Linked DNA regions of Homo sapiens. The protein of the gene in region 1 purifies or fractionates together with the protein of each later gene. This does not show direct contact. Each region holds a gene or a part of one and is shown in the gene's direction. Other genes may lie near its edges.

The links.
Region 2: the proteins of CD244 (region 1) and MTX2 purify together in Homo sapiens (affinity purification with mass spectrometry; 4 studies listed by BioGRID and IntAct, with this or other methods). This does not show direct contact.
Region 3: the proteins of CD244 (region 1) and CHCHD6 purify together in Homo sapiens (co-immunoprecipitation; 3 studies listed by BioGRID and IntAct, with this or other methods). This does not show direct contact.

Annotation. Positions count from the first base shown.
Region 1 is NC_000001.11:160,835,274-160,839,025, reverse strand, and holds part of CD244 (natural killer cell receptor 2B4 isoform 1 precursor), read left to right. Parts: coding exon 1-87; intron 88-507; coding exon 508-575; intron 576-2,771; coding exon 2,772-2,831; intron 2,832-3,752. UniProt on the Homo sapiens protein: Heterophilic receptor of the signaling lymphocytic activation molecule (SLAM) family; its ligand is CD48.
Region 2 is NC_000002.12:176,335,329-176,338,564, forward strand, and holds the end of MTX2 (metaxin-2), read left to right. Parts: intron 1-2,164; coding exon 2,165-2,336; 3' UTR 2,337-2,697; downstream 2,698-3,236. UniProt on the Homo sapiens protein: Involved in transport of proteins into the mitochondrion.
Region 3 is NC_000003.12:126,952,206-126,955,957, forward strand, and holds part of CHCHD6 (MICOS complex subunit MIC25), read left to right. Parts: intron 1-3,752. UniProt on the Homo sapiens protein: Component of the MICOS complex, a large protein complex of the mitochondrial inner membrane that plays crucial roles in the maintenance of crista junctions, inner membrane architecture, and formation of contact sites to the outer membrane.

The DNA of each region.
Region 1 (3,752 bases):
TGATCATCGTGATTCTAAGCGCACTGTTCCTTGGCACCCTTGCCTGCTTCTGTGTGTGGAGGAGAAAGAGGAAGGAGAAGCAGTCAGGTGAGTGGAAGGTCCTTAGGGTGGTGCTCCTGCCTGAGGCCTTGGATCCTGTGACTTTGTCCTGCGTCCAGTGGGATGTGTCTGGGAGCACAGCATCTCCTTTTCCTCAACGAGCTTTGGTATGTTTGTGTGCGTGGTGGCGGGGGGCAAGCAGGTTGCTAGGCTCTCTCTCCCAGTTCATGCCTTCTGATCCCAATGCGCAGATTTCCCTGTAGACAGCTGGTTTGGGAGGAGGTGTGGGAGGGGCAGTTCGGTTGCTGCCTCTGTGCTCTTTGGGGTTCCTGGGAAGAGCATTAACTTGCCTCCTTTCTAGAACCTTTTTTAAGGTTTGGCCATTTGGGGTAGAGGTGGGACCTGTTAGAAGCAAAAGCCCTTCTGGAGGTTTCTGCAGCTCTGCTCTTTGTTTTCTTCCTCCCTCAGAGACCAGTCCCAAGGAATTTTTGACAATTTACGAAGATGTCAAGGATCTGAAAACCAGGAGAAATCACGTATGTCATCCCGGAGGCTGGGGTCTCTCTCAGCTGGCTTGGAAAATGCTCTTTCAATGATGGTTATTCAGAGCAGAGGGACAAAAAGGACTGAACGACTGTCCTTTTGATGTGACCCTCAGCCCTTCCCCATCTATCTTTTCTCCACCTGCTTCCTAGTTCTGGTGATGGAGGAAAAGAGGAAACAAAAGGAGCAGAGGAGATGAAAGGGAGGCTGAAGGGGCATCTTGGTGCAGAATTGCACCTGCTGAGAAGGGATGGAGCACAACAGAAATCAATGACAGAGGCAGAGTGCTGCTGTGGTATTTGTTGTCTGACCACAAATTCTTTTTCCTAATGAGTCAGGGCTTACATTCATGAGTCCCTTAATGGTGACACAGGCTGGGAAGTGTGACCAGCCAAAGCATAATAGTTTTGTAGCTGGCTCAATAGGCTGCATTCACAGCCTTTTGGAAGAAGAGGCCTGAGTGTGGCTGAGGTACTAGAGAGAGTAACCAGCCTGGCACAAAGCCCACCAGCCTGAGTAGGCTCCTCCAGGAGCCTCTCGCCTGCTCTTCGCAGCAGGCAGGGGCCAACTCTGCCTGTCATCCAAGAATTAGAAGAGGAGGAAATTGCAGAGGGCCTGCAGATGCCCCCACTGCTGTGTCTCGCTTAGGGCAGATGTGGTGACAGGCCCAGGGGAAAAGCTCTGATGGAGCCTACCAAACTGCTGGCAGGAAGTGGGGCAGGGTGGGTGAAGTGGGGCGGAAGTGCCTTCTTTCCACTGCCCCCTGGCGCTTTGCTGTGGAGACCCAGCAGCACGCAGGAAGCACATGTGGTGGGGCTCTTCCGTGCTGGCCACATACGTGAGGCCCTGTGCAGCCTCGCAGAGCAGGCAAGCATCCTCTCCCAGATGCCTCTGGGTTCAGAGGCTGTTAGAGCAGCTCCCCATGCCTGTTTTTTTATTTTTATCTTTATTTATTTATTTATTTTTGCCCCAGCAGTGGCTATGGGAATGTGAAAAATAAAGCAGTGGCTATTGGAATGTGAATAATAAAAGGGGACTTTGTTTCTCTCACTGCTACCAGACTCTGGTACAAATTCCTGAAAGCATGTGAATCTACCCACAGCCAGTGATGCCCGGGTGCTTGCTAAAAATAATCTATTTTTCCAAAAAGAAGATGACTTGAGATTAGGAGACCACAGGAGGAAAAACAACTTAGAGCAAAGGAAACCTCTTTGGGATTCAGGCCTATTAGCTTACTTCTTCCGACTCAAGAGCTCCTCCCTGCCTGGCCTCAGCCCTCTCTGGCCTCTCCCTATTGTCTCAGGGCTCCAATTTGAAGGCCTAAATCTCAAGTTTCATGTGGTCTCACTTTGAGACCCAGCTCTAATCTTTCTAGAAACACTTCACACGGGTCTGGACGGGAGAGAAAAGCAACAAACTCCTGCAGTATTTTAAAACACAAATGAAGTTATTGACATTGTCAGATGCCCATGACTCCCCAGCCTCTAAGGACAGCTGACAGTTCTCTGCTTCTCTTAGCTTCTTCTTGCTTCCAGGAATTTTGCTTGCACCTTGCCTAATGAACCCTGCTGCCTCCACTGGCTCCCAGTAGAACCCAAACTGGCAATATGCTTTCAGTGGCCGGCAGCATGAAATACCTCCACCACCGATTTCCTAAGGGGTAGGAACAAGAAAAGGGAAGCAGGAAGCTCTGCTTCCTGCTTTGGCCCTTGGGTTCAGGGCTGCACCCAGCACTATAGCTGCCCAGGGCGCTGACTTGAGGTCAAGGGCAAGGTGGCCTCAAAGATGATCTAGAGAGGGCTTAACTGTGTTTGGTCTTTGAAATGTTTAAACTTTCTGAATTTCAGTGCTCTGAGGTAAGGCTCAGATAACAGCCCTACTCAGAGCTCTGCAAGGAAGGGTTTCTAAGTTACTAAAGGAAAGAAAGTGACAGCATTCTCTTTGAGCAGGGTTGCTGGAACCCCTCACACCTAGGTGGTTCCTTGCTCCTGATACTAATGGTTCCACTCCAAACTGCTCTTCTTCCTGTCTCTTCCCATCTTGGGAGGATCAATGACTCTCCCCAGTCCTGCCACCTCCCTCCCAGTCTCCTGAAAAGCCCTCTTCTTTGTGCTGTTTTTCCCCACTCAATCTAAATCTGGACAGACCGAACTGTCGCTCATGTTACCCCATCTCCATTTCTTGTGCAGGAGCAGGAGCAGACTTTTCCTGGAGGGGGGAGCACCATCTACTCTATGATCCAGTCCCAGGTACCTCTCCAGTTTCTCTAGTCCATTCCATACCTATCTCTGGGGTTTCCTAATGCCCCCCTGAAACTCACACCATTGAATGGCAGAATAAGATCTTGGTGCTTCTAGAATCCAGAAGATAGCTTGGCTTCAGTTGCATTAACACATTATTTGAAAAGATCCGTGTGATACTAGAGCATCTTAACACAGCTGGGAAGCCTGATGTGGACATTCCTTCTTCTTCCGTGTCTGGCAGAAGGTCTGGCCCAGATAAAGTCTATAGGAGCAGAAACCTGGTTAGGGGACTCAACTTCTGCTTTCTTGCCCTGCTGCTGCTTCTAATACTTGGGGCCCTTGCACTTTTTATCCCTATTCCCTATTATATTCGTTTTCAGGAAAGAATGAATCTGCATTGATCTCTTTTATTTTATTATGACTTAGCAATAATGTCCATTTTCTTTTCTTTTAAAACAATTTTATTGTTTAGAGACAGGGTCTCTTTATTTATTTTTTATTTCCATAGGTTTTTTTGGGAACAGGTGGCATTTGGTGTCATGAGTCAGTTCTTTAGTGGTGATTTGTGAGATTTTTGGTATACCCGTTATGAGACAGGATCTCATTCTGTCTACCAGGCTGAGTGCAATGGTAGAATCATAGCTTACTGAAGCCTTGAATTCCCGGCCTCAAGTGATCCTCCCACCTCAGCCTCCTGGGTAGCTAGGTCTGCAGGTGTGTACCACTGCACCCAGCTGTATTTTCTTACTAAATCTCACATAACAGCCTCATGAAAATAGTTCTAATACTTTAGATGTGGTCTACATTCCATATCACAATGAGGAAACCGAGACTCAGGTCAACTGATATCTCAAGGCTACATAGCTAGGTAGTGGCAGAGCTGAGCCAAAGGGTTTCTGAGTCTCCATTGCACCTCCTCATACTCCA
Region 2 (3,236 bases), on another chromosome or scaffold:
ATGAGGCTAAAGAGGCAGGCAGAGGCCAGATTATCAAGGCTCTGTGTGCTTAGTGTAAGGAGTTTGGCATTTTAGTATAAGTAGAACAGAAATCCATTAGAATATTTTGTGCTTGGAGTTGGTATGATCTGCTGACATTAGTCATTCTGACCATGGTATGGAGAATGAGTAGAAGCAGTAAGACACTTTAGGAGGCTATCTCAGTGGTCTAGGTGACAGATGATGGTAGGTTACACTGTGAAATCATAATGAAGAATAAGTGGTGGCATTCAGGGCATATTTTGGAGGTAGTGTCTCACCAGACTTGCTAATGGATATAGGAGGGTGAAAGAAAGAACTCAAGAGTAGCCCCTAAATTTTTGGCCTGAACAGCTGGTTGGATAGTGGTGCCTTTTATTTTGGGAAGTTTGGGGGACAAGCAGGTTTGGGATACTGTAAATTACTGCTATTGAGAAAATAAAGTATCCCACACATCTTAGTCAAGATGCTCCACATCCTGCTCCACAGATACTCCACATTGAAGTGGAGATGTTATGTAGGCATTTGAATGTATGAATCCAGAGCTCAGGGGAGACATTAGGACCAGAGATAAATATTTAGGAGTCAGTGGCATCAAGATGGTATTTAAAGCCATGCATCTCTAGGAGACTACTTATCAATAGGGTTCAAGGCCACATAGCTAGTAAGTGATAGTATTGGAGTTCAAATTTGGATTTTTACCAACCCCCAAATTTATTCTGCCAAACCAGATTACTGCAACATATTTTCACATTTATGTAGGCTAGCACATATTTTCTCAAAAACTTTATCACTGTGGGACACAGTAATAATTAGCTCGTAATTATGATGACATTTTCTTGTTTTAGTAATAGTGCATTAGTAATTATTTTAATATAATGTAAATTGGTGATGCCCCATTTATAGATCATTAGTAGTGGGGTAGATTTCATTTTGTTGTTAGTAATATATAATTACAGAGAAAAAAATTCCTAGAAATTTTTATGTTGAAGCCATCCTTATGATTTTGTCTCCTTCAGAAATCTAAGTTACTTTAAATGTGGTAAAATTAAAGTTGTGTCTTGTTGTTGATTTGTGATTGGGTATCATTTTTTTGGTCCTATCACCACAGCGAAATCCTTTGTGCTTTGACAGCATTTTGTTTATGCATCTATTAAAACACTTAATAAATTGTATTTATTAAAACAACTTTATAATTTATGTTTCATGTACATGTCTTAGAGTATTTTTCTTGTTTTTATGTCTAGCATTTGGTATGGTTTCTGGCACATTGGAGATCTGCTATATTTAGTGAGAAAAGTAATGAATTAAATGAATATGATCATTACATCTATATTATTTTAACACACCTAAATGTTGTTACTAAAGAAAGCAAGTCACACAACTAGCAAATCATATTTTTTTTCCATATAGCAGAAACTCCAAGAAAAGTTATATCAAGTTGTGGTAGGATTTGTTTCTTACGTGGCTTTTTTCTTTTAAGTTGATGAATAAAATGATTTTAAAAAACATATCCACGGGGGTCTTTCAAGTATCCACAGGACATTTGTTCCGGGACCCCCACAGATACTAAAATCTGCAGAGTTCAAGTCTCTTATATAAAATGGCATAATTGCTTACGTAAACTTAATGTATTGAGAAAGAAAGAAAAAATGGTGCAGTGTTTGCATGTAATCTATGTACATCCGTATATTTTAAATCATCTTTGGATTACTTATAGTACCCAATACACACAATCTAAATGATATGCAGTAGTGTGATCTCAGCTCACTGCAACCTCCACCTCCCGGGCTTAAGCCATTCTACCACCTCAGCCTCCCGTGTAGCTAGGACTATAGCCAAGCACCACCATGCCTGGCTAATTTTTGTATTTTTTGTAGAGATGAGGTTTTGCCACATTGTTCAGGCTGGTTGTGAATTCCTGAGTTCAAACAGTCCGCCCACCTCAGCCTCCCAAAGTGCTGGGATTACAGGCATGAGCCACCATGCTTGGCCTATATTGTTATTTCTAATCTTTTAAAATATTTTGGATCTGAGGTTAGTTGAACCTACGAGTATGGGACCTGTGGGTGAAGAGGGCCAACTGTGTTTTCTATTGTAAAAGTTAAATGCTACTTACTCACATTACTCTCATTTCTACTTTTAGGCCTACTGAACTTGACGCACTGGTATTTGGCCATCTATACACCATTCTTACCACACAATTGACAAATGATGAACTTTCTGAGAAGGTGAAAAACTATAGCAACCTCCTTGCTTTCTGTAGGAGAATTGAACAGCACTATTTTGAAGATCGTGGTAAAGGCAGGCTGTCATAGAGTTATGTGTTAGTCTCAGGAGTCTTAACTTTTGAAATATGTTTTACTTGAATGTTACATTAGATATTGGTGTCAGAATTTTAAAACCAAATTACTGCTTTTTGAAACCTCAAATTATATAATGTATCTTATGTATGTGCTTTATATTGTTATTTGTGTATACATTAAAATAATTCTGAATTATTTAATCTGATATGTTGTATTCTGTATCTTGAAATTTTTGTTTCCTTGAAACATGCATGCATTTAAAAATAAAGCTTAAACAACTGTATGGATGTTACATTTACTTTCTTTTGATTTTTCTGAAAGTCATTCACTGAATTTTACACATGTGGAATAAACAGTGTCTTTTCTAAGGCAAGTAATTTGTGTTACATACTCCCAAGATTCCCTTGCTAGTTACATGGTGAAGCAGATAATGGGAATAAACGTTCTTAACAAGTGTGCACTTAGAAAATATGGATGGTTTTAAGGTAATTAAATTTTGGTGCAGATTTGACATTTAAGAACATTCTTTATATAGAGACTTAATTAAAAAACATTTCATCAGAGCAGCTGTGATTTACATTTGATAAAGGAAAAGTTTGAGGAACCTTTTTTTTTGAGACAAGAACATTTTAATAATGCTCTTTTATTCCTTTGTGGGGAAGGGAAGATAGTTTTCACAAAAGTATTAACAGGAATTTTTATGTAAACACTAAGGATTATATGTTGTGTCCTTTCCAAATTTTCTCATAGTTTATATCTTATAAAACCAGGGATGCTCTGAAGAGACAGACGTAAAAAATGATTTCTTAAAAATGTCTAGAATAATAGTACTTTTATATTTTCTTTTTATGTACCAGGGAATTTTAACTTATTTAATCCTTATAAAAATAGGATGGCTTTGCAGACACTGCT
Region 3 (3,752 bases), on another chromosome or scaffold:
AGGGCTCTCCTGTAGGCTAGACTTGGGAGTGCTCTGTGGGCATGGGGGCTGGAGAAGTTGGGTGCTCTGGGTGTGCAGCTGGACCAGCTGGGTGTTGGTGCTGCCGACCCAACTGAAATTCAGGAGGAGGAGATGTTGGGATGAGGGCTAGCCACATCTGGTCCATGTGGGCCCATGGCCACCTGCTGGGCTGCATGGCAGGCAGGGGACAGCAGGTCTTGAGCTGGGCACCATGCTGGTGTGCTGAGGGGACAAGGGCAGGGGCCACAGGTGGAGCTCGCACACAGGCAGAGGCCCAGGGTCCAGCAGAAGAGAACCAGAGTAAGTGGCCAGAGAGGCAGTGAGGGCCAGGCAGGTGCCGTCAGCTGAGCAGTGAGGCTCGGCATGGGGCCCAGGGGAGTGGGGCAGGGGGAGCCCCAGGCAGCACCTCTCTAAGCAAGGAGAAGCTGCTGTGGCCTGGGACGGAGATGGAGGCAAAAGGGGGTTTCGATTTGAAAAGCTTTTCCATATTTTGAGAGATGAATGTGTTTTGGATGGAGTGCGGGGAATGGAGAAGGTCCAGGAGAGGTGGTCAGTGGGAGAGGCCCGCTCAGGCACAGGGGTTGGGAAGGAACCACATGGGGCCTCTGGACTCTGCTGTGTCTGTGGTCTCAGCCGACAGGGTGGGGGCTCTGGGAGTCAGGCAGACCTATGCGGCCTGCTTGCCAGGGACCAGGACCCATGTGCCTTGTCTGTGGCCATCACATTCTCAGGGCCATCAGGAGGCTGGATGTGGGGTCTTCTGTGGTCCTATTTACTGAATGCCAATGATTCCTTCAGGGCCACACTGCGTTACTGAGCATGTTCTGACCGGGCCGTCTTGGGCATCACCTGCCATTCTCCTGCCATCCTCTCAACAGCTCTGTGGGGTGGGGTCCTCCCCCATACCTGATGCACCGACCACACAGTGGAAAGTGACAAAGCCAGCGCCTTGCCCCAGGTTTGTCTGATCCCAGAACCTGTGTTCTTTCCACTAGACCAAGAGTCCCAGCCTCAGACATCTGCCAGCTCCTTGTTGAAGAGACACCATGATTATGCAGACTCGCTAATGCCCTAACATGCCTGAGGAGGAGGCACCACTGAGGCTGGGCGAGGTCTGAACTAGGTCTCGAATGATATCAGAGCTTACGCTGTAGAGGGAGGGACCCTTTAAGGTAAGGTCCCACCCTCCAAGCCCTACGTTGGCAGTTCCACCACCCCAGCATATCCTCAGCTCTTCTCTGCCAAGTGCCTCCAGTAACCCAGCCTTTCTGCAAGCTCACCCCACTCCAGACCCTGGCCCCACCTCGGTTTCTCACACTGATGGCTAGGTTGCTATGAGAGCTGCACTTCACAGCATGCAATTCTGTTCTTCTATGGGGCAAGCGGTGTTACTGTTCCCATTGTACCAATGAGGAACATAAGAGCCAGTGAGGTGAGCCAACTTCCTGGGCATTGTCTTTGATGCCTGTGCAAACAGACACCCCATACACCAATGCGAATGGTGTGAACCCCTTCGAAGCCACATGGACCATTAGATCTTCATTCTCCAAGGAAATGTCCTTACACAGGGGTACAGGACTTATTTCTATCCCTGGCAAGTTTGTGGCACACTTTGGATACCTTTATCTGTGCATGTGAAGAGTAGCTGTTTGCAAGACCATGTTTCTGAACATGGGAGCTGTTTTGTATGCATTGTAAACAGGGTCATGGTGTGCCAGGGCTGGGAGGGGTTCAGGGTGGATAGAGTGCACCTACTTTTGTGAATGGCTTCACCGAAGGCCTAGCCCTGCCTTGCTTCAGAGAAAGCTTTTCATTTCCAGAGCTATGCTCTCCCTGTCTTATCCCATTCAGAGCCTTTTTGTGGACAAATGGGTGAAATTTCTTCCAGTTGACATTTGCCTTCCATTCTGTCTCCTCATATTGTTCTGATAAGTCCCAGGAGAGAGAGGCTGTCATGGTCCCACGGGCGATACTGGCAAGGAGGGGATAGATTTCGCCATGGCCCAGTTTCTCCTAAACTGGGAGCCCACTGCGAGGTTTGCCCTCAAAATGCAGAGGCCCTTGTCCTGGGACCTGAAACTAAAGTAGGAGAAGCCAGTGAGGAGGGGACACAGCCAGGCTGACCATGGGGAGAGGGGCAAATGTGGCTGTGTCTTCCTGCACATCGCCATTCTGCAAAGTGTCGGCGTCTCTGTTGTGCCTCTGTAGAGGGCAGGGCTCAGCAGGTCAGCCCTCCAGCTCCATGAGGCTCAGCCACATGACTCAGGCTGGGGCCACTTAGCCTCCGCCTGTCCTGTCTATGGTACCTCTTTTCACATAGATCAGTAAGCCTCACAGAGTTACAGCTTAGGACAGCTCTGCCCTGACTAAGCCTGGGGCTTCCCCTGAGCCACTCACCATGACACACAGGTCCCCTCAGTGCCTGCTGGCCTCCACGGTGCAGCCAGGAACCAGGCTCACCAGGGCCCCATGAGGGCAGGGTGGGGTCCTGCTTCAGGGGAGTGCAGCAGAGGCTATGATGGAAGTCATGCTCTGGGGTCTCAGACTCTAGAGGGCCAGCACCGTCAGGAGGAACAGAAGACACAGCAAGAGGCTGGTATGAGGGGACAGCAGTATAGGTGACAAGAGAGAGCCCAGGGAGACTGGCAGTGCCACTGAAGGCACCCACTGCCCTGCAGATTTAACCCTGCCTGGGGAGGGGAGAGCACAGCCTTCTAAGGCTGGAGACTCAGGGAGCAGAACAGGAGGGGAGGCCTCTGCGATGGAGGCAGAGAGCCTGGCCTGTGACTTGAAAGTGCTCCTAAAACAGGTGTCAGAACACTCAGAACCAAAGCTGTATGTGCAGTCCCTGAGAACACCTGCCTGAGACGAAATGCCATGAGGCCAGCCGTCCCCCAAGGAAGAAGCAGCCTAAAAAGCCCACAACTAGACACACCCATGTCACAGTTCTTAAATACAGATGTGGAGCCGTGCTTAAGCACCTGGAGACAAATCAGGGGCTGCCCCAGACACCCCAGCTGTATTCTTGCCCCAGCCGCCTGTGCGGCAGCTGACGCAGGCCAGTGAAGCGGGTCTCCGGAGCTGGGCAGAGGACTGCACACCAGGGGCTCATCTGCCCTGCATATGTAAGAACGAGAAGTCAATGCAGATAAAACCCCCCCCACCCAGTCCTCTTCAGGAAATAAGAGGACCCTTTAAGACTTGGTGCATGCAATGCAGACTTGAGTCAGAATTGTGACCTCAATGGCTAGGATGGGGTGGAATTCAAGGACCCAGGCCAGGGCTGGGCCACCATGGCCTCCCCTGGCAGGAAGGGGAAGGCGTGCTCTCCCTTCACATCCTTTACCTTGGCGCTGGTGTGGCATGGCAGTCACAGGCGGCTGCACCCCACCCCACACTCATCCCTCCCCGTCTTTAATTTAGGGACTGTTCGTTTTGTTCATGCCCTGGGGATGGGTCTTGCTGGCCTTAGCTGAACATGGGACACTCACTGCTCATGTTAGCGATGGTGTTAGGCATGGGTATGTGACCTGGTCCTAGACAGTGAGTGGAGGAGAAACCTGGAGTGGGGTTTGAGGGGAGCATTGTCCCGCGTAGTCAGATGAGACAGCAGAGAGACCTGCTCCTCCCTGCTCCCTTTGACCTCTGCTGCAGAGAGGACTGCGCTGCATACAGTGGCCTGGGGATGACATGGACGAGAAGGGAAGACCAGACCCAGGTGGCATCACTGC